2 separate regions of the Homo sapiens genome follow, and region 1 is linked to region 2. The links come from fine-mapping of genetic effects on gene expression. A gene starts in region 2. The other region holds a variant in brackets. All regions are shown on one strand. Distances are between the middles of the regions. Region 1 overlaps ARNT (aryl hydrocarbon receptor nuclear translocator). Region 2 holds the start of CTSK (cathepsin K).

The links.
Region 1: its variant is fine-mapped to the expression of CTSK in whole blood (INTERVAL, PIP 0.97).

What each region holds. Positions count from the first base shown.
Region 1 is chr1:150,833,428-150,836,461 of GRCh38, forward strand. ARNT (aryl hydrocarbon receptor nuclear translocator) reads right to left here. Exons shown (of 22, transcript NM_001668.4): 7 at 2,853-3,034; 8 at 1,111-1,213. Among named protein-coding and RNA genes, the nearest start is that of CTSK, 27 kb to the left of the region's middle. RefSeq lists an enhancer at 2,914-3,034 and a cis regulatory region at 2,986. The variant C/CAA (reference allele first, on the strand shown) is at 1,711.
Region 2 is chr1:150,806,636-150,809,374 of GRCh38, forward strand. CTSK (cathepsin K) reads right to left here and starts at 1,625. Exons shown (of 8, transcript NM_000396.4): 1 at 1,579-1,625; 2 at 51-171. The coding sequence starts at 170.

The DNA of each region.
Region 1 (3,034 bases), 27 kb after region 2:
GTTGTAATGACCCAAGATCATGCCACTGCACTCCAGCCTGGGCAACAGAGCAAGACTCTGTCTCAAAAAAATAAATAAATAAAAATAAAAATAAATCACTAAACCACATAATGTTCAATTTTGTGCCTCTCCAAGCAAACCTTTAATATCCTACCCATAATTTCTAGCAACTATCCTCTCAGTACAATGTAGTCAATTTCCATTATATAGCCTGAACTTTGTGACCCTGAGATGCCTTTTGTACCTGTATAGAAAGGACCACCATATTTTCTACAGAATCCTAAAACGTACAGTATATAATTTATAAACACTAAACACCTACTGAAAGACATAGGAAGTCTCAAATTTCTAACCAAAAAAAAAAAGAAGAAATGGTCTGAGTAAATGGATATTGCCTTGTGTTGTAACAGGGAAAAAGTAGAGGTTTTGTAGTCAGACTACTATGAATTAAAACAAAATCCTGTATCAAACAGTATGTAACAGTGGGAAATTCATTTCTTTTTCTTTTTCTTTTTTTTTTTTTTGAGACAGAGTTTCACTCTTTTTGCCTAGGCTGGAGTGTAATGGCACAATCTCGGCTCACTGCAACCTCCACCTCCTGGGTTCAAGCAATTGTCCTGCCTCAGCCTCCAAGTGGCTGGGATTATGGGCGCACGCCACCACGCCCGTCTAATTTTGTTGTTGTTTTTTTTTAGTAGAGATGGGGTTTCACCATGTTGGCCAGGCTGGTCTCAAACTCCTGACCTCAGGTGATCCACTCGCCTCAGCCTCCTAAAGTGCTGGGATTACAGCCTTGAGCCACTGCACCTGGCCAAGTTCATTTCTTTATATCTGTTTTTCCATCTGCAAAATGGTAACCATCAATCTTACACTACAAGGCAATTGTGAGGATAAAATAAGATGACAGATATAAAGCACCTATCATAGTGTCTGGCAAGTTCAGAAACGTTAGTTCCCTTTCCAAATACTTTATTCTGTGTTACAATCCATCTGGGTATGGAGAGTTAAATTTAATCCACTGGAGCTAATCCAACTTAACTCTGACAGAAATAAAACTCTCAGCTCTTGATCCTTCCTATACCAAATCACAATCCTCAGCTTGACACTCACCTCATTCGGCAAATAAACGATCTCCTTGAGCCCATACACATTCTCATGGAAGACTGCTGACCTTCCTTTTTCACTGTTCCAGTCTTTAGATCCAGGATACGCCCTGAAGGAAGATGTGAAGAGCAGTCTGGAGTGCATTTTTGTGTGTGGGGAAGAGGGGGAGAGATACTGAAGGCAAAGATAAGTAAGCATCCTATTCATGCCCTTAATCTCCTTGCTTATAACAGAACTGACCAAGCAGGAGATGAATTTTTTTTCAAGCCTAAAATACTTCAATTATCATCAATGAATCTCACTCTTAAGTTCAAAGGCAGCATTGAAAATAACATTGTGCAAGGAAAAGTAGGAGTGGAAAGTAGTAGTAGAAAACAAGAGGCAAGGCTATATTCTCATAGCTGATTATCTGTATACACATACAGACATACATACAGAGTAAATGTCATTGGTTGAAAAACAAGTACTTTTCTGTAGTCCCAGCTAATCAGGAGGCTGAGGCAGGAGGACTGCTTGAGGGCAGGAGTTTGAGGCTGTAGTGTGCTATGACTGTGCCTGTGAAGAGTCACTGTACTCTAGCCTCAGCAATAAAGCAAGACCTTGTCT[C/CAA]AAAAAAAAAAAAAAGAATAAAAAGAAAAAATTTTAAAAAGAAAAAAACCAAGTAATTTTATATGTTATAGAAACATATAGATCTGTTTGTCTTCTTTATTATACAGAAACGAAGAACAACTTTTGGGGAAAAGGAAGAACTAGAAAAATGAAATCATAAAAACATAAAGGAGGGGAAAACTGGTCAAGTGTGGTGGCTCATGCCGATAATCCCAGCCCTTTGAGAAGCCAAGATGGGAGGAGGAATGCTGAAGGCCAGGAGTTTGAGACCAGTCTGGGCAACAGACAGAACCTGTCTCTACAAAAAATTTAAAAATTGGTCAAGTGTGGTGACATGAACTACTCCTAGCTACTCAAGAAGCTGTAAGCAGGCAGATTACTGAGCCCAGAAGAGTTCAAGATTACAGTAAGCTATGATGTGCCACCGTACTCCAGCCTAGGCAAGAGAGAGACCCTGTCTCTTTTTTGGGTGGGAAAAAAGGAGGAAAACTAAAGATCAACAACACTAATATGAGTATATTGAAATTTCTTGCATTTTAACTACCAGTTTTTTTATCTGCTTCCACTTTAAATTTTTTTCTAGAGTTGCTCAAGAATAGATATGACTTGTTTCCTCTAGCCAAACTCTGGCCAAAAGACTGAACATAATAAAATAGGGGAGAAAAAAAGAACAACAGTACAGATACAAACAACAACAACAACAACAACAGAAAACACCTTATACATTGACCAATAACCATATCTATAGAATAAAAAGCTGTTATCATTGAACCTAGCACAAAGCCAAGCACCAGGAGGTAGAAAAAATACCAGATAATTATCCATACAAATGAGATAAAAACATGGATAATTCTTTTAGAACGGAAAAAAAAAAGTATTGTAGGTTTGGCTTTTACTGTTCTATTTATACCAATATTAAGATAAATGTAAAATATTATCACCAATGAAATATTTTCTAAGGCTGAGCCACAAAGTAGATAATCTCATATGGATAAAAAGAACTGACTATATTCATTAAAGTAGAAAATTCTTGAAGCCTTGCCAGAGTCAACAAACCAATTTAACAGCTAAAACATCTCTTAAGTCTCAGGAAAAAAACAAGAAAGGACTTCTCATTCATTTCCCATACACATAACTCTCACCTGTCAGGGCATTTTCTGAAGTGGAAAGCTGCTCACGAAGTTTATCCACATCATCTGGGTGCACCTGATCATAGAGTGTGCTGCCAAACCATTCAGACTGTGGCTGGTTCAAAACAGGAGTCACGGAGTCAGACACATACACCACCCTGCCTGTCTCACATGAGACAATAAACAGAAAGCCA
Region 2 (2,739 bases):
GAGCTCAGGTCTCAGCCTTCCTGCCATGCCCCCTCCAGGACCCCAGGCACCTTGTTGTTATATTGCTTCCTGTGGGTCTTCTTCCATAGCTCCCAGTGGGTGTCCAGTATCTCCTCAGGGTACAGAGCAAAGCTCACCACAGGTAGCAGCAGAACCTTGAGCCCCCACATCCTGCAGAAGAATGTAGTTAGGGAAAACTCTTCCATTTGGCAGGGAAACAGAGGAAAACTAGGCTTTATGAGGAAGAGAAAGGTAGACGGAAAAAGGGTGATAAAACAATGATAGTCAGGAGGGGCCTGTGTTTAGATAGGATGCTGGTACATCTGGTTCCAAGGACTTTGATCTAGGGGGATTTAGCCATTTCTCTCTTTCTCTCTCTCTCTCTCTCTCGGGAGATTTAGGCAACACACACTCTCTCTGTTTCTCTCTCTGTCTCTCTCTCTCTCACACACACACACACACACACACACACACACACACACACACACACGTACACAACCAGAAATGGGGGATAGAAACTGGACAATCAGAATGGGCTCAGTGCGTTTCCTCCAGGGTCCCTAGCAGGCTTGGAGACAGACAAATAGCAAGGTGGTAGTGGGGTTCAGAATACACAAAGGAGAGATTTCCGTCTAAGTTTTGCCTCCTGATCATTTCTTCGAGGCGTTCTTCTCTTTCGTGCCTAAATTCTGGTACTTTCCCAGATCTTGTCAGAAGAGGACAAGGGAAAATAGGACAATGTTTCCTGTTTTCTGAGACATTGTATATCTCCTCATTCTCCTTATGCATTTCTTCTTCCTTTTTCTCTCCCTTCCCTCCTTAGGCAGGAAACTGCCCTAATCTTAACCAGATGCTGCGGGCAAGGTTTTTTATTTTTCCCCTAACAACAAAAACCCACTGTGGCTGCCGCAAAGGACAAGAAGCCTCAGATCCAAGGTTTGTTAGAAGAATGTTCAGACTGAAAAGCAATGTTCTATGATGATGAAATTCACAGCTTTTCATAAGTTTACTCTAGTTAGCTTCACTCATTTCTTGCATTGGCTTTCTTAATTACAAATCCTCCATTTTAAGAACAATTTGCAGCCTGCAGCATGACATATGGCTTACACAATTGCTTATAGTCCATTTACATGTAATTTTGCAAACTGGCAAAATGTCCAGTAGGACATTTAAAAACTAGAGTGTTAAGGGCTTTGAGATGTCTCAGTGAACAGGAAGCACTGAGCTACTACCTCCCCATACCACTCTCCTCCTCCTCACTAAGGAGTTAACCGTTTTGATCCTTGTTGGCCAAAGTAGAAAACACTGCAGAAAGGCCACTCTTGAAGGATGGGGAAATGATTCCCTATATACTTTGCTTTTACTAACAATCATGTATGTATATATATAAATCATACAAGGAATTCTACAGATTTCCAGGCAGATTTTATTTAGCCAGGGAATGACCTAAGAAGTGCATCTCTGTTTTCATCTGCAGAGGCTAAAAGTTTATTGTGATCCTCAAGTCACTACATCCCTAATACTCAGAGAATTGACAGGAATGAAAAGCTAAAAGATCTAGGAAGTTGCAAACGTTACCTGCTGATGGAAATCTGTTGTCTGGCTTCGTTTCGGCAGCAAAGTGTGGGCACACCATCAGGGGTGCTAGATTTATTCCATCGGGATTGCGGAAGTCAGCTCCAGTGATCGGCTGGAAAATTTGGGTAAGAGGAGGAGGCGGGGATAGAAATGCTGAGAGAAGGAAGGGTAGGGAGGAGGGAAGGAGGCAGTGGATTTGCAGTGTTTCTGTGTGTATGCAGCATGTGTGCCAGGGTAGGGAATTACTAGCTATTTAGTCTCACAAGACTGTCTTTGGTGGCAAATAACAAGACCTCAATATCTATTGACTCAAATAGGAGCTTACTTTCTCTTTTGGTGAGTAAAAGGAAGGACACAGCCCTAGTCTCTCCCATCCTTCTTCTTCAATATCTTTATTTTAATATTGGGGGATTATATCTTTTCCTACCCCTTTCCTGTTAGGATTTACCTCTCCAACATTGAAACCTATTTTCATATTTGTGTCTGACTCTCACCTCTGGGATGCGGTAATGAACATAAAAGGCTATAAAAGAATAATGTAATGGAAGCCATAGGCTCCAGAATTCTTTGTATTTTTATAAGCTTGTTGGTTGCAAGTTGTCATTACTTCCAGGCAGAATAGTTTTCCCAGCCTAATGTGGTTTTGCTGAAGGAGGATATGCCCAGAAAGTCCAGATGAAACTGTCTTTAAAAGTAACCAAAAACAGCAGTCCTGGTTATTTATGACAGCACTTGAATCAATGCCGTAAGTTCTGATGGACTCACATGTGACTCTGTTGCTAAAACTCTCAGGTGGTGGGATGCCCGATAAACATCATCTGTCTCAATTAAAATCCCCAATCTAGGACAAGTCACATGAGCTTCTCCAAATGCTTCCCCAACATCCAAGCATGTGACAGATCATAAGAATCTAGCTGATTCCTCAAACCACACCCCAAACTTCATTTTCTTCCATAAACAGATGTGGGGAAGGAGAAAAAAAGGCTTCTTGGAATAGAAAGGATAATAAATGGGATCTGTAATAGACTCAGTTTCTAGCTGGATTCCATGCATAAACCCTCAAAAATACAGGCTTATGCCTCTGGATTTTAAGAGCTGCTAACAGGCTAGGCGCAGTGGTTCACGCCTGTAATCCCAGGCCTTTGGGAGGCCAAAGCATGT